4 linked regions of the Homo sapiens genome follow. The protein of the gene in region 2 interacts with the protein of the main gene of each other region in a biochemical or structural test. Each region holds a gene or a part of one and is shown on either strand. Other genes may lie near its edges.

The links.
Region 1: the proteins of MARCHF6 (region 2) and UBE2G2 form a complex in vitro, tested with the Homo sapiens proteins (2 studies listed by BioGRID).
Region 3: the proteins of MARCHF6 (region 2) and PLIN2 form a complex in vitro, tested with the Homo sapiens proteins (one study listed by BioGRID).
Region 4: the proteins of MARCHF6 (region 2) and UBE2J2 form a complex in vitro, tested with the Homo sapiens proteins (2 studies listed by BioGRID, with this or other methods).

What each region holds. Positions count from the first base shown.
Region 1 is NC_000021.9:44,791,800-44,798,833, forward strand, and holds part of UBE2G2 (ubiquitin-conjugating enzyme E2 G2), read right to left. Parts: intron 1-7,034. UniProt on the Homo sapiens protein: Accepts ubiquitin from the E1 complex and catalyzes its covalent attachment to other proteins. In vitro catalyzes 'Lys-48'-linked polyubiquitination. Involved in endoplasmic reticulum-associated degradation (ERAD).
Region 2 is NC_000005.10:10,398,667-10,405,700, reverse strand, and holds part of MARCHF6 (E3 ubiquitin-protein ligase MARCHF6), read right to left. Parts: intron 4,918-7,034; coding exon 4,859-4,917; intron 4,789-4,858; exon of another isoform or gene 4,215-4,788; intron 3,643-4,214; coding exon 3,562-3,642; intron 3,338-3,561; exon of another isoform or gene 3,318-3,337; coding exon 3,249-3,317; intron 3,169-3,248; coding exon 3,094-3,168; intron 2,295-3,093; coding exon 2,160-2,294; intron 1,131-2,159; coding exon of another isoform or gene 1,080-1,130; exon of another isoform or gene 761-1,079; intron 144-760; coding exon 24-143; intron 1-23. UniProt on the Homo sapiens protein: Endoplasmic reticulum membrane-associated E3 ubiquitin ligase that plays a critical role in mitigating endoplasmic reticulum stress, the regulation of cholesterol and lipid homeostasis, and ferroptosis.
Region 3 is NC_000009.12:19,124,486-19,132,230, reverse strand, and holds the start of PLIN2 (perilipin-2), read left to right. Parts: upstream 1-4,738; 5' UTR 4,739-4,812; intron 4,813-5,782; 5' UTR 5,783-5,804; coding exon 5,805-5,834; exon of another isoform or gene 5,835-5,921; coding exon 5,922-6,117; intron 6,118-7,745. UniProt on the Homo sapiens protein: Structural component of lipid droplets, which is required for the formation and maintenance of lipid storage droplets.
Region 4 is NC_000001.11:1,253,400-1,256,876, reverse strand, and holds the end of UBE2J2 (ubiquitin-conjugating enzyme E2 J2), read left to right. Parts: intron 1-751; coding exon 752-832; intron 833-1,389; coding exon 1,390-1,674; 3' UTR 1,675-2,965; downstream 2,966-3,477. UniProt on the Homo sapiens protein: Catalyzes the covalent attachment of ubiquitin to other proteins. Seems to function in the selective degradation of misfolded membrane proteins from the endoplasmic reticulum (ERAD).

The sequences.
Region 1 (7,034 bases), on a different chromosome or scaffold from region 2:
TGTGCACCTAGAAAAGCCAAAGACACTCAATGCCCACCATGAAAGTAGCTGAAGGGGGTGGGTGTGGGAGGGCTGTACCCTACAAAGCCACAGGGGCAGAGCTGCCCAAGACCATGAAAGCCACTCCCTGTATCAGTGTGCCCTGGATGTGAGACACGGGGTCACAAAGGAGACCATTTTGAGCTTTAAGATTTAATGACTGCCCAGCCGGATTTCGGACTTGCATGGGGGCCTGTAGCCCTTTGTTTTGGCCAATTTCTTCCATTGGTAATGGGAGTATTTATCCAATGCCTGTATTTCCATTGTATCTTGAAAGTAACTAACTTGCTTTTGATTTTACAGGCTGCTAGGCAGAGGGGACTTACCTTGTCAGAGATGAGACTTTGGACTTGGACTTTTGAGTTAATGACGAAATGAGTTAAGACTTTGGGGGCCTTGCTGGGAAGGCATGATTTGTTTTGAAATGGAATGGTTTTGAAAGGAACATGAGATTTGGGAGGGGTAGGGGGAGAAATGACATGGTTTGGCTTTGTGTCCCTACCCGAATCTCACCTTGACTTGTAATCCCCAAAGTGTTGAGCGAGGAACCTGGTAGGAGGTGACTGGATCATGGGGGCAGTTTCCCTCATGCTGTTCTCGTGATAGCGAGTTCTCAGGAGACATGATGGTTCTATAAGTGTGTGGCAAGTTCTTCCTTGGCTTGCTCTTCTCTCTCCTACCGCCTTGAGAAGAGGTCTGTTTCCCTTTCTGCCATGACTATAAGTTTCCTGAGGCCTCGTCAGTTATGCAGAACTGTGAGTCAACTAAACCTCTTTCCTTTATAATTACCCAGTCTCAGGTAGTATCTTTATGGCAGTATAAGAACGGACTAATGTACCGATTAACCGTTTAATGAACCCACAACCTTGGGTAGAACAAGGCCTACCCAAGGAAAAATTATTTCACTCAAAATACCACTAACACCTGCTGAGAAGCCCTGATCCAGGAAACAGAGGTCCTGAAGAGACCTAAGTGCTGTCACAAGGGTGTGCTGACACCCAGCAGTGAGAGAAGGCAGAGTGGCAAGGAGGGGCCAGCAAGGCAGGCCAAAGGCAAGTGCTGGCCCCAAGGGCCAAGTGCATTAAACATTTCAGGGGTGGGTGGGAACTGAATGTGAATGAGGTCAAGTACCAAGCCGACTAAGACCTTGGATTTCACAAGCCACACCCTGATGTTCTCCCTTTGTGTCTCTTCATGTGGAGTAGATCAGGAGAAATAACCACAGAACCTAATTTGCTAGGCTTCCTACACCCAGTCATCTAAAATCTAGTCCCATTCTTGTGTCTCAAGCCAAACCGCCTAATTATAAGAAAAAAATAACAGATTACGGCAGATAGACTGTAAACTGCTAAGCAGGTGGGGTGCGGGAGAAACACAATGTCAGTGGGCAACTAAGTAGAGGCCTGGCAGCAGAACACACAAAAGCTTTACAAATCACCTTCGTGGGACCATGAAGAAGAGCTCGTACCAAAGAGAGCTGGCTTTATTCTTCATCTGGAGTTCCCCTTTGGCACTCCCCTGCGTGACACCCTCCCTTAGGGAGGGGAAAGGGTGGTCTAAAAACTGCAGCTCCAGACCTGCTCCTGGCAATGCAGGCTCAGCACAGAGACCTGCCCGGGTGTGCGCTGGCCTTCCCGCCAGCTTTGTTATTCAACAGTGGCCTCTACTGGTCAATAAAGAAGTGCAGCAAATGAGTTCAGAGGCTGGAGGGAATGGTTCAGGGCACTTATTTTTTCCATTTTGTTTTTTGCTTCCAAAGCATATACACGCGTACACAAAATAATATACAGTTTCATGTTTACTGATAAGAAACAAGTTCAAAAAAAGAGACGAATCTTGGTATCAGGGAAATTTTCAGAGGCCATTCCTTGCCACTTAAAATAGTGGCTTAACAAATAGCTACCACACAAAGTGAAATATAACCTTTGACCCAGCAATTCCATTTCTAGGAATCCATCCCACAGATAACATTGGTGAAGATAAAAAATGTATACACAGGCTATTCATTTCAGGACTATTTGTAAAAACAAAAAGAAATTAAAAAGAACTTGAGTGTCTATCAACAGAGGACCAGTCAAATTATGATACATATACCAGTGGGGTACTTTGCAGCTATAAATACCTCTACATGCTAGTACAGAACAAACTTCAGGACATATTACATGAAAAAAAAGAAGGTGGAGAAAAGTGTGTGACTAGGGCCTTTAAGAGGTAATTAAAATTAATGTGGTCATTAGGGTGGACCTTAATCCAATCTGACTAATATCCTTTTAAGAAGAGATGAGGACACAGGCATAGAGGACAGAGCCTCAGAAGAAACCAGCCCTGCCCTATCCTTGATCTTGGACTTCCAGCCTCCAGGACTATGAGGAAATACATTTCTGTTGTTTAAGCCGTGCCCAGCCTGTGTGGTAGAGCAGCCCTAGCAAACACAGTGCTGAAACAACTGCACTGCCATTTACAAATAATTTACAAATAAACCTTGGCCTTTATCTCATACCATATGGAAAACTTTGATATGGATCCCAAACCTAAATACAAGAGCTGAAACTATAAAACATCTAGAAGAAATCATAGGAGAAAATCCTACTGCCACCTGATGTTTGGCAGTTATTTCTTAAATATAACACAATAGCAAGAAATATTTTAAAAGTCAATAATTGAATTTCATCGAAATAATAAAAACCCTTCTTTTTTTGTTTTTTTTTTTTTTTGAGACGGAGTCTCGCTCTGTCACCCAGGCTGGAGTGCAGTGGCGTGATCTCGGCTCACTGCAAGCTCCACCTCCCAAGTTCACGCCATTCTCCTGCCTCAGCCTCCTGAGTAGCTGGGACTACAGGGGTCCGCCACCATGCCCAGCTAATTTTTTGTATTTTTAGTAGAGAGGGGGTTTCACCGTGTTAGCCCGGATGGTCTCCATCTCCTGACCTCGTGATCCGCCCACCTCAGCCCACAAAGTGCTGGGATTACAGGCGTGAGCCACTGCGCCCAGCCAAAGAACTAAAACTTAAGAAAATCAACACAATTTTGAAAGAAGCAAAGACTCAAGTCACTTTATCTAAAAAGACATATGGATGGCAAATAAACACGTGAAATGATGCTCAACATCACGAGTCTTATGGAAATGCAAATGAAAACCTCAGTAAGGGCCGGGGGCTGTGGCTCATGCCCGTAAATCCCAGCACTTTGGGAGGCGAGGCAAACTCCTGAGGTCAGGAGTTAGAGACCAGCCTAGCCAACATAGTGAAATCCCGTTTCTACTAAAAATACAAAAATTAGCCAGGTGTGGTGGCACGCGCCTATAGCCCCAGCTACTTGGGAAGCTGAGGCAGGAGAATTACTTGAAGCCAGGAGGCAGATGTTGCAGTGAGCTGAGATCATGCCACTGCACTCCAGCCTGGATGACAGAGAGAGCACCTCAAAAATAAAAAATAAAAAAAAATAAATAAATAAAACAAAACCTCAGTAAGACTGCTATACACCCAATAGAATGGCTAAAATTTTTAAAACTGGAAGGGCGCAGTGGCTCGCAGTTGTAATTCCAACACTTTGGAAGGCCAAGACGGGCAGATTGCTTGGGCCCACGAGTTCGAGACAAGCCTGGGCAACATGGCGAAACCCTATCTCTACTAAAAATACAAAAATTAGCTAAGCGAGGTGGCATGCAACTGTAATCCCAGCTTCTTGGGAGGCTGAGGTGGCAGGATTGCTTGAGCCTAGGAGGCAGAGGCTGCCATGAGCCATGACTACACCACTGCACTCTAGCCCGAGTGACAGAGTGAGAACCTGTCTCAAAAAAAAAAAGAAAGAAAGAAAGAAAAAAGAAAACAAAAAACAACTGGCCACGCGAAGTGTCAGCAAGGAGGTGGGGCAACGGGAACACTTAATACACTGCTAGGGAAATGTGAACTAGAGGAAAACTGGCCGTTTCTTTAAAAATTAAACACACACTTCCCATTATAACCCTGGTTATTTACACAGGAGAAATAAAAGCATATATCCACAGAAAGACATGTACATTTAGGACATGCACACAGGGGGAAGATGGCCATGCGAAGATGGAGGCAGAGATTAGAATTACACTACCTCAAGCAAGAGAATGACAATAAACGCCAAGGATGACCAACAATCACCATTAGCTGGAAGAGGCAAGTAAGGGTTCTCCCCTCGAGCCCTCAAGAGGAAGAATGACCCCATCAACACCTTTATTTTAGATGTCTGGCCTCCAGAACAGTAAAAGAATAAATTTCTGTTGTGCTAAGCCCCCCATGGGCAGCCCACTTCTACCTGGGTCTATCTCTGACACTCCTAGGAAAGGCTGGATGATGAATGAAGACAGAACATCAAGACAAGACAGCAGTTTACAACAATTGAGTTCTTTCCTGGCTCTCCTTTTTTCCTGTTTATGAACCTAGGCAAAATCATCTTGTCTGTTGCTCAATTCCATAAAATCTGTAAAATTAGGGGGCTTGAACAGAATCATAGCCAAGGTCCCACCACCTCTGAATTTCTGCAGTTATATGACTACTCCCAAATACAATAAAGTGTGCATGAACATCTAACCAAATTTATCTAAACCCCTTCTATGTAGAGATTGATTCTGTCAAGTCCACCTTTACACTGGAATGTGCTACCTTAAAATACGTTATGAGGACAAACTAGATGTTAAGATACACACACAAAAAAAACCAGTAAATGATACACAAAAAAAACCCACTAAATTTTATCACATTATTAAGATACAGGAAAAACAAAGTCCCCTCAATAACACACTGTATTCATCTTCTGTCACTGCTGTAACAAATTACCACAAATTTAGTGATTTAAAACAATACTCATTGATGATCTCAGAGTTTCCAAGCGTCAGAAGTCTGGACACAGCATGGGCCAGCTAGTTCTCTGCTCAGAGTCTCACCAGGGCTGCCACTCCAAGTTCATTGAGGTTGCTGACAGAATTCACTTCCACGGGTCTGTTGGTCTGGGATCATTCTCAGCTTCTTGAGGCTGCCCGCCTTCCTTAGGTCATGGCTCCTTCTTCCATCTTCACAGCCAGCCACAGAAGGTAGAGATCTTGTCATATGTTGAATCTCTCTGACCACCCCCATCCTGCCTTCACTGACTGCTTTTGAGCCTTATGTTATTATTGGATCCTTCACGGTAATCCAGAATAATCTCCCACTCTTTAGGTCTGCTGATTACTAACCTGACTTGCATCTCCAAAGTCCCTCCACCGAAGTACTAGAAAGTGCTTGAATAACAAGGGCATGGGAATCTTAGTGAGGTATGTTTAGAGTTCTACCTTCTACACATAGTCCAAAATTTCATGTTAACATGTAAAAACACACAACACACTTCCGTGACAAACCTTCGGAAATCAACCATTATTTAGGTCTTATTACTGCAAACTAATTGACAATATAATTGAAATAACAGATGAAGCTTCTGTCAGGACAATAAAAGGGAGAACATATCTTTGCTAATGCAAATATCCTTAGAAAATGCAAGTTCAACAATGCAAAGACTGGCCTGAAGCAGCAGCCTGAACTTAATTTCCTATGCAGGGGTTTAATGATTTTCTTCTCAATAAAAATGAGAAGGCCGGGCGTGGTGGCTCACGCCTGTAATCCCAGCACTTTGGGAGGCCGAGGCTGGCGGATCACGAGGTCAGGAGATCGAGACCATCCTGGCTAACACGGTGAAACCCCGTCTCTACTAACAATACAAAAATTAGCCGGGCATGGTGGCGCGCGCCTGTAGTCCCAGCTACACGGGAGGCTGAGGCAGGAGAATGGCATGAACCCGGGAGGCGGAGCCTGCAGTGAGTCAAGATTGCGCCACTGCACTCCAGCCTGGGCGACAGAGCAAAACTCCGTCTCAAAAAAAAAAAAAAAAAAAAAAAAAAAGAGAAAATACCTGCTCACAGTCTAGCCTAACCCTAGAAATAGGGCTAAAATAAAACTAAAACAGAGACACAAACACAAACCAGGATACCAAGAAATGGTAGGTGTTCACACATCTGACCCACCAGCCAGGTTTCCCATGAGGACACAGAAGTAATAGTCCCCCACATCCAACCCTCTGTTCGAGTATGAACATTGTCAGAATCAAAATGGAGTCACTTTCGCCAAACCCTGACAACATAGAGGGAGGTCAAGATGAAGACAGAAAAATCAGCCAGGTGTAGGGGCACATGCCTGTAGTCTCAGCTACTCAGGTGGATTAAGTGAAAGGATAGCTTGAGCCCAGGTCAAGGCTTGCAATGAGCTGTGGTTGTGCCACTGCACTCCAACCTGGGTGACAGAGCAAGACCCTGTCTCAAAAAATAAATAAATAAATAATTATTATTTGCCAAAATATGCTTAATTTTTATTGCTAAAAAATGCTAACAATCATATGAGCCTTCAGCAGGTCATAATCTTTTTGCCGGTGCAGTCTTGCCCGGATATTGATGACTGCTGACTGATCAGGGTGGTAGTTGCTGAAGGCAGGAGTGGCTGTGGTAGTTTCTGAAAATAAGACAACAATTAAGTTTGCCACAGGGACTGACTCTTACTTTCACAAAAGATTGCTCTGTAGTCTGTGATGTTGTTTGACAGCACTTTACCCACAGTGGAACTTCAGTCAAAACTGGAGTCAATACCCTCAAACCCTGCGGCTGCTTTATCAACTAAATTTATGGAATAGTCTCAATCTTTTGTCATTTCAACAATGTTCACAGCATTTTCACCAGGAGTAGATTCCATCTCAAGAATCACTTCTTTGCTCATCTGTAAGACTCAACTCCCCATCTGTTCAAGTTTGATCATGAGATTGTAGCAACTGAGTGACATCTTCAGGCTCCACCTCTAATTCCAGTTCCCTTGCCATTTCTACCACACCTGCAGTTGCTTCCTCCCCTTAAAGTCATCCATGAGCATTGAAATCAACTTTTTCAAACGCCTGTTGTTGATATGGTGACCTCCCATGAATCACAGATGTTCTTAATGCCATCTAGA
Region 2 (7,034 bases):
AAACAATGGAAACATCTTCTTACCACTGACAAAATAAATCTTCGGAGATGCCTATATATTGGCAAATGGATCATTTCCTGTACTGGATTGAAATCTGGATCATTCAAATTCCTTAGAAACCACAGGACACCAGGTCGAAGTACCTGCAAATATATTTTAAATACTATGAATATTCACCAATGTCTTCAAATTCTATATATGAGCTAAAACATTAACAGAAAGATAAGCACTTAGAATTATTCTGGCATCTAAAGTGGGCCCCAGAAAATGTACATGGTATTCTTAGGAAAGTAAGTTCCTAAACCAGAATCTTTATGAAAACTACCCTGTGTCTGATGATGTCCTTTGACATCATCATTCACTAGGGGCGGGGGAAAAAAAAAACATTCATTGGGTCCAATGTGTCAAGAAATCTAGACCTCTGAGACGAAAAATAAATACAACCATTACTATCGTAAAAGGGTTATGTTGCAATTTATAAATGTACTAAATAGACGGTCTGATTTGCCTTCCCCCTGTAAATGAAAATCATCACCCAAGAGGCTGCAGGTGATGGGGTAAAGGAGGAGTCTGGGTACTAGTTCTATGTGGTCCAAACTCACTGAGTTACCCTCTGTGTAACGCATCTAATCTGCCCAAACTTCTATTCTCCATCTCCTAAACAAGGGGTTACAGTGTGTGATTTCTAAGGTTCTGCCTAAGTTCCACATATTAAAATTTTATATCAACAAAAACCACCACACTGATAAAATGAAAGAAATCATTATAAAGCATTTTATTCACTTAATGAAGTAATCTGGAGTTCACATATAATTACATTTTTAAGAAACACATTTCTGTACTTGCTTTAGTTCTCAATCAGTTGTTTCAAAGAAAGAATGAAAGCTTTAGTTACCAAGAGAATTTACTGAAATTATACCGTATGATTCAGGAGAATGCTTTGGTCCCTGACCCCTCCTCCTCTTCCTCAAATCTTTCAAAGAACAAAGTACACCAAGAGCAGCATTCAGCCTTTGTGCTTTTGTGTTCCCTTCTCACTGGAATTGTCAACCTGGTCCTCCACACCCTGCACATCTCCATCACCCGTCTCCGTGTAAACCAACATTTTCAATGCTGTATTCATTTTCAGGCTATAAAATCGAGGAGAACAGGAATTGTGCCTTTGTTTCTCACTGAAACCCCAGAATGCAGTATAGTGTCCGGCACACAGTGACCATTCAGTATTTGGGGAATGACTGAGCTTGAGATGTACACTAATCAAATACTCAACTGCTTTCATCATCTTCAAATCACTAAGAACCAGATTAGAAACATAGAACTAATAAAGGTATCAGGCCAGGCACAGTGGCTCACACCTGTAATCCCAGCACTTTGGGAGGCCAAGGTGGGTGGATCATTTGAGGTCAGGAGTTCAAGAACAGCCTGGCCAACATGGTGAAACCCTGTCTCTACTAAAAATACAAAAATTAGCCGGGCATGGTGGTGGGTGCCTGCAGTCCCAGCTACTTGGGAGGTTCAAGCAGGAGAATCACTTGAACTTGGGAGGTGGAGGTTCCAAGATCATGGCACTACATTCCAGCCTGGGCAACAGAGCAAGACTCAGTATCAAAAAGTAAATAAGTAAATAAATAAATAAATAAATAAATAAATAAATAAATAAATAAATAAAGGTAATCCATCAGGCCAGTGAACTGGAATCATAAAGGACCCTCATTGTAATTCTATACTTAAGGCGCCTAAATCAAAATGATTTTACATGTCTGATCCTGCAAAACCATATCCTTTTGGTTATTTCCAGCAGTACAGTTCCTTGAAGTCTGAGACACACTCACATCATACAAAATTCCAAGAGTCTGTATTAGAGGATGGCTAAAGTATATACGAAGTGTGACAAAATGAGTACTCTTATCTTTTTCCTCAGTTGAATCGTCTTTCAAACTCAGACAGAAATATTAAAACTTGCCAATTATGGAGACAAACAACTGAAACAGTTTAAAGTAATTAAGTCAAAGTCCCCTATAAGTTATTCCCTCTTAGAATAAAATAGTAGAGAATATGATTTAGGTAGGAAATCATCATAGCCTTTGAGACATGACTGGTGGTGAAAGCAAAAGTCCTTTTTATAAATGTACAGCATCAGCATTTCCCTGTGGACTTACCTCTCTCAGTAGTAGAATGAAGGAGGCAAAGTAGAAGACATATACCATTCCCACTAGCCAATGCAGAAACATGGTAGTACCTGGAGCCGACTGAAAGCTCAGTTCTCGATCTTTCAGAGTAGCATCAAACATTTCCTGAGACAAAAGAGGACAGGTAAGAGAAATCTGTGCCCCCTACATTTGCCAAGTTAACATTTTCATCTTCTAGGAAATAAATAATCAATATGCATGCAAGGAACAATTCCTAGAACTGCAGTTCACTTAATGTCATTCCACGGTGTCACAGAACTATATACAAGATTGGCTACTGCTTCAAATATAAAGAATGATAAACCAATTAGTAAAAGCTTTATTAATACTGATTCTATTAAAGAACTATTTTTGATGAATGTAAAAAATTTTCTTGGTTATAGGTCTGCATTCTTGAGAAGTTTTAAAAGTAAGGTATGGGAGGGTAAATGTTATCTCAGAACCAAAGGCAGCTTTTCTACACATAAAATATTTTTGAAACAATCAAAAACTGATTATCACTAACAGCAATTAAAGAGTATAATCAAGACTGAGCATATTAGTTAAATCAAATGATTAGGGTTAAATTTATTACTACAAAGACAGTTTCCTTATCAAATTATTCTCTATGTATATAATGTCTTGGCATTATCTACACAAATTTACGACAGCAAAATGGGCAATAAAATCCTCCACTATTAGAAAGATTCCACCCAAACTATCCTGACATCAAAAATTTGCACAAAGCCTCAAAAACTCAGGTACTCAAGAAAAATTAACATTAAGATCCTATACTGATACACATGCCAAAAGAATAAGCAAATTATCAAATATTTGCTTTCCTTTAAAAAGAATACATGCTGAAGACTTCCTCTTTTGAAGCCCTTAAATTATGCTATTATACAATAATGAATACTCAACTTACCAAGGAACAGATATCCAGCCACCAACCACAAATGAGAGGGAATACTCCAATTTCTACCACCACTAACAAAGAGACCTTAAGTGAAAATAAAGGTCATCAGTATCACCCAAATGTAGGAGAAATCATTTCCAATTTTAAGTTATAACAGGAATTACCTTAACAACAATATAGCAGACTCCCAGTAAGCGACGAGATCTATGAAATTTCACAAGAGTTGCCAAGCCCTACAGCATCAGGTCAAGGAAAAACTGAGTATTTAAAGGTACAATGAAACAGGTAACTACTTAGCCAACATTTAGTATTTTTTGACAGAATTAATTTATTTCACATTTTGTCCACACTGACCCTTACTGCAAATACCTACAACTTTTACTAAGAGGACAAGGATAGACAAGTTTCGCCATTAATGAAGAGTTCTTTGGTATGAATAATATTAGTGTACACCCAAGTTGGTTCATTAAAGGATACATGACAAATTATCAGTGTTATTGCTAAAAGTATATACCCAACTATGGTTGTGATTAGGCCTTCAAAATGAGATGCTTGGACCTGGAAATAAGAAAAAAGTAAATAAAATTTAATTTTACAACATGTTCTACACCCCGGTTTTCCCATATTAAACAATCTAAATGACTAAAAGAGAATTGTTGAGACAATTTATAACCAGGAAACAACTGTAAAATCTGCTTTGGATGACATCTCTGAAAACCAAATTCTCTCACTGACTGTTATATATTACTAAAAAATGAAGAAAAATTAAATAACACTTTACCCAAGGAGACAAAATAACAGTAGAGTGAATTAAATTTTACAAAAACAAGAGCACTGTAATACAACAGCCTGCCCTCTACTCTCACTCTAAAGCAGATTTGCTAAAGGCTAACCACTGAAAGCAGGAACACACTGCCCAAGTCACCCACCAGCTGGGTAATATCCTAGCCACCTCATTTCCTACCACTAGAAGTAACTGTTCAAGTTTCCCTTGCTCTGCAAATCTGTCCCATTCTCAACTTATAGAAAGAATTTTGAAAGTAACAGTGCCTGTCGGTATTTTTTGATTCCTGAGTTTCAGATAGCAAGTGGCAAAAGTTTGGAAAGTCAAAATTTTTCAAAACACTTACCTGAACCTTTCAAGTTCTTGCATTCAACTAGTGAGAATCAGAGGTGTACTAAATATGAGAAGACTTCAGAACGTGATCTCTCAGATCTCAAATATACAAACTGAGCATATGATCCCAGATAGTCAGCTTTTCCATAAAAGACTAAATTGTTCTAGGGCCCCAACAGAGAAGTAATAATCCTTCCAAAATTTATTTACCTCTGGAAAATACTGATAAAATGTCAAAACTAAAGCACTCTAGAAAACACTACAACCCGTCATTCCAAAATATTCTACCCTTTTTAAATTGATTGATATATTGTTACTTTTCTAAATTCAGCAGGGGGCACCTGGGGAAAGGGAAAGAAGAGAACATACAGGTTCTTGAGATGGACAGAAAATCAGCCTGTGGGAAACTTTCCCACGGTATGCCTCAGGCCCACCCAGCTGACTGGATTTCAGAGCACATTTTCATTAGTTGGCAACATGACCACTATCTCTTGAGCCACTGTTATTTTTTTTAAAAAAGAATGAGACGGTATTGCCTAACTATTCCCTTGCATAATGCCAATGAAGAAATGATGTAACTCTTTAGAATACTATTTTATTAATAATCACATTTGGGAGTAATGAATGAAAGTAACTTTGTAAAAGTATTATACTCACGTGTTCTTCAAATCCCAAACCAACAAGGGAGAAATGACCAATATGGTAAGGGCAAAATGCTAAAAAGGGGGAAAAAATTCCATGAAAACTCCGACATCAAAACAATGAACACTCCTACTACAATTCCCCACTAAAAGGAACTAGGGCTTCTTGGAGAAATGAAAGATTCCAGAACTAGGCTAAAAATACACTGCCTAGGACATTCTCTGTAACTAGAGAACAACAAAGCTATTAAGGTCTAATAGGGCCATGCCAAATCAACACAGAAACCATTGTGAAAACAGGCCAAAGAGAGGATAATATGAGCATCAAAAAGAATAATGACCAAAACTGATGGAAAAACACTGAACATACACAAATCCATGAGTTTATGATGCTCAAAAAAGGAAAAGTCCAAAATAATAATCACGAAAAGAGAAAAAGCAACATCAAAGAAAACACTTTGATGTTTTGGAAGCAGTTAGCACACCCATGTGAATAGTTAATACACCAATTCCTTATTCTGAAAACCAAAATTAATGGGAAAAATATGAGCATCTGTCCTACTTGCCCCGGACAGACAGGTTTGGGTTGACTGAATAGTCCCAAATTGATAAGAATTTCTTCTTCTTTCAGAAAAGTCAGCCAATAAATATAAAAAATGACTGTTTAAAATATCACTCCCAACAGATTATTTTATAATGGTAAAGGGAAAAACAAAACCTAAGATTAGAGGCCCAGGTTGATATCAGCTGAATCCAGTGATAAAAGTGGATAATCCAACATCATGTATCTCAGCTCCTCACATATACTATTAATAGGCACAGTGTGACCAGTGATGGATTTGTCCCAGATGTATTCAACCTGAATCTAATAAGGCCCTTAGATCTGACTTCCAGTTTAAGAGAAATATGGGAGACAAAGGATAAAGGCAGAGGACATCCAGGAAGCAGATGGACAGATGTAAAACATGACATGCTGCAAGAACAGTTAACCTAATCCCAGCAACAAATCAATGGCCAAATAGGGTGAGTTGGGGGAAGCAAAGAGAAGAGTACTCTAGATTAAAAGACTAATAACTTATAACTTAACAACTAAAAGTAATATGTGGACCTTATTTGGGTCTTCATTCAAAGAAACCAACTGCAAAATGGTATGTAAGGGACAACCCAGAGAGTTTGAATATGATGGATTATTAGGAAATACCAAATTCTAGTAATTTTGTAAGGTGAGATAATGGCATTATAGCTAAGTATGAAAGTATTTTTAAAACCTTTATAGCAAGAGAATTTTTATAGTCTTCTTTTTCCTCAAGTCTTTCTGGCTAAATTTTACTTCATTCCTAATAATAAAATATAGTTATCTTTTCTTTATGGTAGAAATAAATCGACAGCGCAGTAGATTACCAGGGGAGTGGGAAACTCAATCATGAAGACAGAAGTCAGAGTGAACCTACTAGGGATCTGGCCTCTAACCCTTTCTGACTATTTCATGGGTAAGAATATTTTTGAACATGTATTTCCAATATATTTAAATTTATTTATAAATTATATATACGTATTAGTTTACTAACATATTGTGTGTAATATAAAGCAGAAGAAATTTAATAAGGTAAGGAAAAAAACTGTATGTTGAATTTTGCCTATTTTGCTCTCATATCCCAGTCTGAAGATGACTCAACTAGGCCCCTGGGAGGGGCAAGTTTTAACTCTATTAGCAGATGTATTAAATAATTATTAACCTTAAATACCAGTTGCAACAATCAATTTCCATCCCATTACACACAAACTAATGGAAAGGCATCCTGAAATTAAGGACAATTTCTCAGGATTGTCACCTTCTAGTGGAAGACCACAGCTTTGTCAAATTATATTTCTGCAAAGCATATGACCACAAGAGCCAAAAAACTGCCTGTAGAAAACTTCCAACAGAGCAACCCATGCAAGAAAAAAACAGGAGGGTGTTTAATCCCAATGATTAAAAGAAAAAGTATGTTCCTAATGGAAGAAAACTTGTTTCATTTCAAAAGATTCCAAAAGATTCTAACTATATAATAAAACATAAGTTTACTAAGAAAATTCTTTTCGCAATATAAGCTCAGGAGGTTGGATTAGAAAAAGCTTTACTTAGATTTGATTTCTATAAATCAGAGTTCTTATTTGTATAATTCATGTTTTAAATGTGACCTGGTTCTCCA
Region 3 (7,745 bases), on a different chromosome or scaffold from region 2:
GTGTGACTAGAGCTTAAAGTTTAAGATAGGTGCAACACAAAGTATCTGAGACAGGACTCAATCAATTTAGAAGTTTATTTTGCCAAGGGTAAGGACACACACATGGGAGACAGGTCTGTGCCTTTCTCCAAAGATGATTTTGAGGGTTTCAATATCTAAAGGGGAAAGGAGTGGATACTGGGGAGAGGAGAAATTGTTAAGGGGTGTGGGCCAGTAAGAGGCAAATGGTTGCATTCCTTTGAGTCTTTGATTAGCCATTGACATGTGAGATGGGGGGGTAGAGGAATAGTCACGCATTCATCTAGCTCAGTGAATCTGCATTTTTAAATAAGATAAAATAAACATAGGCCAGAGGGAGCAATCAAATATTAATTTGTCTCAGGTGAGCAGAGGGATGCTATTGTGTTCTGTCCTATGTCCCACATCTGTGAATATAAGCTATCAATTTACATTGTGAGGATGAAATTCAACAGAACTTTTTAGGGTAAAGATCTTGGGGCCCACAAGGAATTTCCTAGTGGGCAAATTATGAGGGAGGTATGTAGCTTTTTTGTTTTGTTTTCTTTTGAGACAGAGTCTCACTCTGTTATCCAGGCTGGAGTGCAGTGTCTCCATTATAGCGGTCCCCAACTGCAGCCTTGACCACCCAGGCTCAAATGATCCTTCCACCTCAGCCCAGCAAGTAGGACTACAGGCGCATGCCACCACACCCGGCTAACTTTTGTATTTTCTGTAGAGACGGGATTTCACCATGTTGCCCAGGCTGGTCTCAAACTCCTGGGTTCAAGTGATCGCCTGCCTCAGCCTCCCAAAGGGCTGAGATTACAGGCATGAACCACTGCGCCTGGCTTATGTAGCTTATCTTTGAATAGGAGGTTTGTGTGACACAGTCCCCAGCTTGACTTTTCCCTTTGGTTCAGTGATTTTGGGGTCCCAAGATTTATTTTCCTTTCACACAGGTAAAGTCCGGAGAAGAAGCTGGTGAGAAAGAGACAGGAGCCAGATGCTGAATGACGGTAAATCGAATCCTGGAGGGAACCAAACAAAACCCTGAAAACCTCCAGGAATCTCAGGTTGGCCAAATCCTTGGTAATGTCCTGCCACTCCCCAGGACTGCCACACTGTACACACCCTATCTAATGGCAACCTACTGCAGGGGCCAAGGAAAAACGTCTCCTTTGTCCTCTGGAGGTTCACTGAAAAATCAACTGGCGGAAAGCAAATTAACAGGTCAAAAGATATACATGTATTATTATAAAAAGACGTAAATGTATTATTGGGCATGTGGGGGAACCACAGAGTAATTACTCCACCTCTCAGTGGGCTCAGAAGCTTATATACCCCTCCTGAGGTTACAGAAAGTTTGGGGGCTCAGAGAATGGTGGTAAATCAGGATTTAGTGGCAAGACAGAAATGGAAACTTGGCTAGCAAAAGTCATTTCATTATGTAGATTGGGGTCCCCAAACTTTGGGCCATTTACACTGTGGCCATTTACATTCCTGTTAGGAATAGGGCCGCACAGCAAGAGGTGAGTGGCGGGTGAGTGAGCAATACCGCCTGAGCTCTGCCTCTTGTCAGGTCAGCAGCTGGTATTAGGTTCTCTTAGGAGCAAGAACGCCGCTGTGAACTGCACATGCAAGGGATCTAGGTTGCGGCTCCTTATGAGAATCTAATGCCGATGATTTAAGGTGGAACAGTTTCATCCTGAAAACCATCCCCCTGCCCTGGTCCATGGAAAAATTGTCTTCCATGAAACCTATCCCTGGTGCCAAAAAGGTTGGGGACCGCTCATGTAGATGAAACCTCACAGGTAGTAGCCATTGGAAAGAATAGATGGTTGATGTTTCTTTCAGACCTTTAAAGGTGTCAGACTGTCCATTAACCTTTCCTATATCTGGACGAGGGAAAACCTCAGAGAGCACCTGGCTGCATCAATGCAGATTTTCTCTGTATATTGCAAGCCTCTCTCACACACACACACACACACACACACACACACACACACACACACACACACACCAAACAGCTTCGTAGGACTACTTCCGCCTGCAGGTCCTCTGAACAGCCATATCTCAAAATATGTGAAAGAAGTATATTTTGGGGTAAAATTTTTTGGTTTCCTTCACTACACATCTCACCTTGGGTGTTATTCTTGCCACTGGTTTCATGTTCTCAGACTCACGAAGCTGAAAAACAGTTGGGGATGCAGAATTTGATGTGCTTCATCCTTTGTGGGCTTGAAGAGTCTCTTGTTCCCAAAATTATTCCCTGGGGCCCTCTGCTTCACAGGCAAATAAAAGCAAAAAGAAGCTTGCTCAGCCTTAAGTGAGGAAATGACTCACAGGTTTAAAACAAAAAAGGAAAAGATGGAGGCATTTTGTAGGTGAAAGGGCGAGAGTCTTCTGATGCAAAGTAAGAGGTCATTAGAGCAGGGATGGATTATCAATAAGCAGAGCAAACATTTGCTTAGGGAACAAACAGCGCCGGAACACGAAAAAGAAAAGAAAAACATAATAATTTAATTACTTAAAACACTGAAGATGGCAACATAGGAAAAAACCCAAACCAGAACATTTTTGGACTTCATAACATTTTATGGTTCAGTATTTATGGCTTAGTATTTTATTTTGAATTACATGTGGGGAGGAGGGGTAAAAATACTTTAATTTTTCTTGCTAAGTAAGTACTATTATATATTCAGGTATAATGGGATAAGGGATACCATTTTAATGGGTCCGTTTGGAGCTTTAAATATGATCAACAGTATCTGTGTGCATGCAAGATTGGTTAAGAAACTGGGTTAGACCGAGTGCGGTGGCTCACGCCTGTAATCCCAGCACTTTGGGAGGCCAAGGCGGGCGGATCACGAGGTCAAGCGATCGAGACCATCCTGGCCAACATGGTGAAACCCCGTCTCTACTAAAAATACAAAAATTAGCTGGGCGTGGTGGCCCGCGCTTGTAGTCCCAGCTACTCGGGAGGCTGAGGCAAGAGAATCACTTGAACCCGGGAGGCTGGGGTTGCAGTGAGCCAAGATCGCGCCACTGCACTCCAGCCTGGCGACAGAGCGAGACTCCGTCTCAAAAAACAACAACAACAACAACAACAACAGAAAATGAAAACAAATTGGGGTAAAAGTCTCTGAGAGCTTCCTACAGTTACAACTCCAAAGCTTCACAAAGCCAGTCCCTCCTGGCTGGAGCCAGGGACTCCAACGCTGTGGGCCTCTCAGGGGGCGGACCCGCGGCGCCAGCGCCTGCTCCCTTCCCACCTCCCAACCCTCCTCTCTGCTGTATCCTCCCTGCGAGCTGTGTCGGGGGCCGGGGGGGGGGAGTGGGGGCCGAGGCCGGACAGCTTCATCTGGAAATCCCCCGCCACTCACGGGGGAAGAAGTCCCACGAGCCCTATCTGGCCTCGGGCGCTGGCGCAACTTGTCTGCTCAAATAATCTCGTTCCAAATCTGTGCGTTTTACACAAGAAACAAACAAACAAAACAACAACAACAAAAAAACACAACTGGGACTCAGATGACGTTTTAAGTTGTCTTTGAAAAACAATGCATAACCCTGCACGTATAAAGTTGCCTATGTCACATAACCCTAGGCAGCTGTCATTCTGGAGTGATCTGGAGTTAAGTTTTTTGTTTTCTTTTTCTTTTTTCTTTTCTTTTTTTTTTTTTAGACAGGGTCTCAGTCACTCAGGCTGGGGTGCAGTGGTACAGTGGCGCGATCTCGACTCATTGCAGCCTCGACCACCTGGGCTCAAAAGATTCTTTCACCTCAGCCACCCACCCGCCTGCCCCCAACCCCGCTAAACAGCCGGGACTAGCTGGGACTACAGGCGCGCGCCACCACGCTGGGCTGCTTTCTTTGTATTTTGAGAGAGACGGGGTTTCGCCATGTTGGCCAGGCTGGTGATTCGCTCGCCTCGGCCTCCCAAAGTGCTAGGATTACAGGCGTGAGCCACCGCGCCCAGCCGCCACAAAACTTTTAAAAGTTATTACTTCGCTAAAAATAACAGCGTAGAAGCCATTGTGCAGCGCCACGCGATCTCGGCTCACTGCAGCCTCGACCTCCCAGGCTCAAGCGATCCTCCCATCTTAGCCTCGCAGGTAGCTGGGGCCACAGGCGCACGACACCACGCTGGGCTATTTTTTAAAATAAAATAAAAATCTTCGCCAGGCTGGTCTCGAACTCCTAGGCTCGACAGATCCTCTCGCCTCAGCATCCCAAAGTGTTGTGATTACAGGCGTGAGCCACCGCTTCCATTTTTAGAGTTCTATTCTGAGGACTAACGCCGTTCAACAAGTTGGTGTGAATTTGTTTGCATTTTTCAAAACCCCAAAGCCGGCCTGGGCGCCATCCCCATTTGCCCCGGGCCTCTCAGGACCCCGACCACAGGCAGGACCCCGACCACAGGCAGCGCCCCGACTCCAGGCAGCGCCCCGACTCCAGGCAGGGCTACCTCCAACTCCCAGCCTCCCCAGGCCGGGCCCCCGCCCGGCTCCCGACAGGCTCCTCTCCCCGTGGCGGGGCCCCTCGCCCAGGCAGCACACCCTCTCAACCCGACCGGGCCCCCACCACTCTAGGAGGGCCGGCGTTGGGGGAGGGCGCCGGGACGTGCCCGAGGGTGACACTCGGGCTTGGGACAGGGCGTGCTGCCGCGGGTCACGTGCTGCGGAGGCTTGGGGAGGGGCGGCGAGGCGGGGTTTATAGCCCGGGCGCCCGCGGGCCCCACGCTTTGACCGGGTCGTGGCAGCCGGAGTCGTCTTCGGGACGCGCCTGCTCTTCGCCTTTCGCTGCAGTCCGTCGGTGAGTGCGCGCCCAGTGGGTGCCCCAGCGAACCGGTCCCGGGCCCCCAGCGGCGCCCAGTTGGGGTGGGGGGCTCCCCGGGGCCTTGGGACCGCTGCTCTGCTCCCCGCGGGGCTCAAAGGTGGACGGGACGCGGGGGTGATGGTCCGAGACCCCCCGCTCGCCTCGCGGCTTCCAGGTCCTGGCTGGGTAGGGGCGGTCTGCTGAACCCGCGCTTTCGACCCTTGCCTTTGTGCGTTGAGGCTTCTTTCCTGCCAACAGATTTAGGGCGATTGCTATCGAATGTCCCTTGGCCTGCTTGGGTGGTTGTGGGAAAACAATATTTGTCGAAGGGACATTATCGAAAGGGAAACGCGTTAGAAAACCGCATTTTTTTTTTGACGGAGTCTCGCTCTGTCGCCCAGGCTGGAGTGCAGTGACGCCATCTAGGCTCACTGCAACCTCCGCCTCCCGGGTTCAAGCGATTCTCCTGCCTCAGCCTCCAGAGCAGCTGGGATAACAGGCGCCCGCCACCACGCCCGGCTAATTTTTGTATTTTTAGAAGAGACGGGGTTTCACCACGTTGGTCAGGCTGGTCTTGAACTCCTGACATCAAGCAGTCCACCCCCCTCGGCCTCCCAAAGTGCTGGGATTACAGGCGTGAGCCACCGCGTCCGGCTTGGCTAGCATTTTTGTTAACAGATACTCGGAGAAACAAGAGAAGTATGTCAACAACTTTACTTCTCCCTCCTGAGTATTGCAAGTTTACACATAAGCTCTGAAACTTTGCCTCAAAAGAGGGAGTGGGGTTGTGTGGGTGTGGGTCTTTCAGGAGGGGGACCTGGAGAGCTGGAGAGAGGAAAGAAGTGCAGAAGACTACAGGGAGCTCACCCTGCATTTTTCTCTACTTGTAATCAGCATTTGCTTGGGTTGGGGAATGAATTTGGGAGAGTCTTATCCCGGTGTTCTGAAATAAGTCTCTTTTCTGCAGATTTCTTTCTCCAGGAAGAAAAATGGCATCCGTTGCAGTTGATCCACAACCGGTATGAATTTTGAGTAGCCTTTGTCTACTTTCTCTCCTTTTGTGTTTTGAGAGATTAATAAGCATACCCTCCCTACTTTGATTGCAGAGTGTGGTGACTCGGGTGGTCAACCTGCCCTTGGTGAGCTCCACGTATGACCTCATGTCCTCAGCCTATCTCAGTACAAAGGACCAGTATCCCTACCTGAAGTCTGTGTGTGAGATGGCAGAGAACGGTGTGAAGACCATCACCTCCGTGGCCATGACCAGTGCTCTGCCCATCATCCAGAAGCTAGAGCCGCAAAGTGAGTTCTGATTTTTCAAGATGCAAGTCAAGGGACTGGTCAGTGGCGAGCCCCTGAGCTCACAGCAGTAACATCTGGAACTCCTCAGCCCTTCCTGGGGCATACACTGCCTTTACCTAGAAACTTTCAGGTGACCCTCATTACCGTAAGAGGACTGTTTCTTTTCTTTTCTTTCCTTTTTTTTTTTTTTTGAGATGGAGTCTCACTCTATCACTCAGGCTGGAGTTCAGTGGCGCAGTCTTGGCTCACTGCAACCTCTGCCTGCTGGGTTCAAGTGATTCTCCTGCCTCAGCCTCCCGAGTAGCTGGGACTACAGGCTCCCACCACCATGCCCAGCTAATTTTTGTATTTTTAGTAGAGACGCGGTTTCACAATATTGGCCAGGCTTAACTCCTGACTTTGTGATCCACCCACCTCTGCCTCCCAAAGTGCTGGGATTACAGGCGTGAGCCACCGCGCCTGTCCACAGAAGGCCTGTTTCATAGCTTTGGCAGATGTTTATGATCCTTTAATTAAAAATCCCCCAGAGGATGGGCACGGTGGCCTGCACCTGTAATCCTAGCACTTTGGGAGGTCTAGATGGGAGGATCGCTTGAGGCCTGGAATTTGAGACTGCTCACTGCAGTCTCTGCCTCTCGGGCTCAGGTGATTGTCCTGCCTCAGCTCCCTGAGTAGTTGGGATTACAGGCATACACCACCATGCCCAGCTAATTTTGTATTTTTAGTAGAGACAGGGTTTTGCCATGTTGGCCAGGCTGGTCAGGAACTCCTGACCCCAGGTGATCCGCCCGCCTCGGCCTCCCAAAGTGCTAGGACTACAGGTGTGAGCCACCATGCCTGGCCATGAATGAGTTTTAGAAATGGATAGTGGTGATGGTTGTATAATGTTGTAAATGGACTTAATGCCACTGAATTGCACAGTTAAAAATGGTTGAAATGGTGAAATTTGTTATGTATATTTTACCGAAATAAAGAATAGAAATGTCATACTCCATGAGAAATCTCATACTCTCATACTTAGTAGTCACTCCCCATTTCCTAACAACCACCCTGAGGCAGCTACTCATCTACTTTGTCTTTATAGATTTGCCTATGCTGGATATTTCTTATAAATGAAATCATAAAATGTGTGGGTTTTTTTGTGATTGGCTTCTTTCGTTAAGCATAATGTTTTCAAAGTTAATCTGTCTTGTCACATCATATCAGTACTTCATCTCTTTTTATTGTTGAATAGTAATTTACTGTCTAGACAGACAATATTTATTCATTCTTCAACTGATGGATGTTTGGGTTCGTTCTACTTTTGGAGATTATGTATAATGCTTCTGTGAACATTTGTATACAAGTTTTTGTGTGGACATGTTTTCAGGTTTTTTTGGTATATACCCAGGAGTGGAATTGCTGGGTTATATAATAACTGTTTAAGCTTTTGAGGAGCTGCCAGACTGTTTTCCAAATCAGCTGTACCATTTTACATTCCCACCAACACTGTATGGAGGCTCCAATTTCTCCACAACATGAACTGCTTTTGAATAAAGATTTAAATCATTCTTTCAAATGGTTAAGCCAGGGACTTTTAGGATTATAAGGAGCCTTTAGAGACCAGCCATTCCAACTCTGCTACTTCC
Region 4 (3,477 bases), on a different chromosome or scaffold from region 2:
TCTCGCTGTGTCTCCAGGCTGGAGTGCAGTGGCGCAATCTCGGCTCACTGCAAGCTCCGCCCCCCGGGGTTCACGCCATTCTCCTGTCTCAGCCTCCCAAGTAGCTGGGACTACAGGCGCCCGCCACCACGCCCGGCTAATTTTTTTTTTTGTATTTTTAGTAGAGACGGGGTTTCACCGTGTTAACCAGGATGTCTTGATTTCCTGACCTCGTGATCCGCCCGCCTGGGCCTCCCAAAGTGCTGGGATTACAGGCGTGAGCCACCGCGCCCGGCCGCAGCTGCCTTTCTTCTCAGTAGGCGGGGCTGGGTGGAGTTCCCACCTTGTCCCAGGCACTGTCGTGGAGACTGCTTTGCTCTGTGGCCTCGTGTTCCCCGCTGCCTCTCGGTCTTGCTTTTATCCACATCCAGCCTCATCCACACCCGCCAGGGGCTCCTCCTTGGGATCTTGGGGTGGGCCAAGGCGGTACCAGTTGCACAGACGGCCCGGGCCTTGTCAGCGGGGAGCCCGGTGCTTTGGTGGCTTGTTTTTCCCTGTCTTTAATAGGAATCAAGTGTGATATCATGAATTGATGGGGGGAAGATTAAGAAGGCTTTGTAAGACTATAAGTTAGTTTGCTGTGAAGAGTGTGCTTATTAAATGCTTTCTGCAACACGAAGACTGCAGCCCTTGACTTTGAAATCATCTGTTTTTAGAATCTTGAAAGAATTGAAATTAGTTTTCTGGCTGATTCCCTTCCCTTCCTTCCTAGAAAAGACAACTGGCAGTGCAGAGTTTAGCATTTAATTTGAAAGATAAAGTCTTTTGTGAATTATTTCCTGAAGTCGTGGAGGTAAGAAAGACGGAAGTGGGTTTCGCCTTCCCCTGCGTTAAAACACTTGAGTTTCACCTCTTTCCAAAGAGTAAAATCTGTGTCCTGAAGCTGCAGACCTCCCCAGGGGATGGCTCCTCTCCCCCAGGAGCCCCGAGGCAGGGGAGGCAGAAAGCCTGGGCTCTGGGGGGTGGCCTGCGGACAGCTGTGCTGGTGGGCCGGGGGCTGGGCCTGTCCCACAGGGGCGTGGAGCTCGTGGTTCTGAGCAGCCAGCTGGGTGGTGTCTGGGGATAGCTGGGAGGCACAGCGGCTGCCATGTGGGACTGGGACTGGAGTGCTCCCTGGTCTTGGCCTCTGTGGCTCAGCCTTGCTCTGGTCTGCCTGAGTGCAGGGGCCAAGGGGCACAGGGCCAGTGAGGCCGGCCACGCTCGGGCCCTCACCTGTGAGATGGGGTCGGAATTTGACACAGCCTAGGGCTTGGTTCTTGGTGGTGGACCGTGGACTCCTGAGAACGGGAGTGCTGGTCCTGAAAGGCGCTGGTTGGAGACCAGCTGCTTTTCTCGCTGTTTTTCTCTTAGGAGATTAAACAAAAACAGAAAGCACAAGACGAACTCAGTAGCAGACCCCAGACTCTCCCCTTGCCAGACGTGGTTCCAGACGGGGAGACGCACCTCGTCCAGAACGGGATTCAGCTGCTCAACGGGCATGCGCCGGGGGCCGTCCCAAACCTCGCAGGGCTCCAGCAGGCCAACCGGCACCACGGACTCCTGGGTGGCGCCCTGGCGAACTTGTTTGTGATAGTTGGGTTTGCAGCCTTTGCTTACACGGTCAAGTACGTGCTGAGGAGCATCGCGCAGGAGTGAGGCCCAGGCGCCGAGACCCAAGGCGCCACTGAGGGCACCGCGCACCAGAGCGTGACCTCGGCAGGCTGGACACACTGCCCAGCACAGGCAGACCCACCAGGCTCCTAGGTTTAGCTTTTAAAAACCTGAAAGGGGAAGCAAAAACCAAAATGTGTGACTGGGCTTTGGAGGAGACTGGAGCCTCAGCCCTGTCCTGGCCACGGGCCGCTGGGGCTGGTGTGGGTGGGCCTTGTGTGCTGGATTTGTAGCTTATCTTCCGTGTTGTCTTTGGACCTGTTTTAGTAAACCCGTTTTTCATTTTATTAGATGTGGTCACTTAGAAATGCAAACTTGCTGCCGACCGCGGGCTGCTCCTGCGTTCTTGGAGCTCCTGGCGCGTTTCTCGGAGCTCCCGGCTCCTCAGCGGGTGGGAACCTCGGGGCCCAGGGGTGGAGCTGGCGTCCGCGGGTGCTGGTCTGGCCTGGCCGTGTGGTGATGAGGCTTAGCGGGGCCAGTGACGGCCGTGGCTCAGGATCCATAAGTCGGGGTTTGGTCTCAGCATTTACAAATGTGTTTACAGTCAGAATGAAACACATTCCTTCTAGAAAGTGCTTGGGGGTTTTTGCTGCCCTGGAAGCCAGGAGCCTGCTCACTCCAACCACAAGTCGCCCTTGACTGCGGCGGCCGCGAGCGGGGCGGGGGCTGCCGGTGCCCTCCGCAGGCCGGGCCTCCTGGGCGCCCCTCGGTGCTGCAGGCTGGGGGGCCTTGGGTACCTGCAGAGCCTTTTCTCTGAATTCCTTATGTCCGGTGGGCCAGAAGCCCGTCCTCCTATGCTGGTGGAAGGCGGAGGACCGGAGTCCCTGCAGAAGGCCCCGTGCACTCGGGGGCCTCCCTCACATCCCGTGCCCCCTGCGCTGGCCTTCACAGTAGGTAATGGCTCCGGCCCGGGTGTTCGCTGTCCACGGAACATGGCAGAGGGGCACCCCGGCCCGGAAAGACGCCAGAGCCAGCAGGGGCTGTTTCGGGCCGCGTGGCTCCCCGGGTCTCGGCCGTCTCCCCTCTTCTGCGTCTGTTCCGTGACTTCGCCTGGGTGGGATGTACCGCAGGTGCATCGCGTCGAGGTGGGGCACGGCCGCCGGCAAGAAACCCACCCTGTCCGGAGGCGGGCGTGAGACAAGCCCAGCCCGCACGCGCTCATCTTTCTTCGTTTTTTGATCAGTTTATTCAGAATTGCTCTATAATTTACCAATTGTATGTATTTAACCTATTCTTGTGGAAAAAAAAGGTCTTTCATTATATCTTTATTTCTGAATTTCATGCTGCTTGTGTCTGTGTGGGCCGGGATGTGTGTCCATCTCTGTGCTCAGGGCTGGGGTGGCCCGTGACCAGGGGGTCACACCTGCTGGCCTGGGGTGGTGTGGCAGCTGCAGGGCAGGTGGGTCCCCACAGGGAATCGCGTCGCTGGAGCCATGGTGTAGAGCCCTCTGCAGGGCTCTCTCCCCATCCCGTACTGGATGCCAGCCCTGCCCTGATCTCCGCTTCTGTGACCGCCAGCATCACTTCCAAAGCCCGGTGTCTCCCGAGGCTCATGGGAGGGGGAATGCTAACGAATAGAGTGTTTACTCAACACGCTACTGCCGGGTGCAGTGGCTGCCGCCTATAATCCCAGCACTTTGGGAGGCTGAGGGGTGGATCTCTTGAACCCAGCCTGGGCAATGTAGTGAGACCCCATCTCACAAAAAATACAAAACACTACCTGGTGTGGTGATGTGCACCTTTGGTCCCAGCTACTCAGGAGGCTGAGGTGGGAGGATTGCCTGAGCC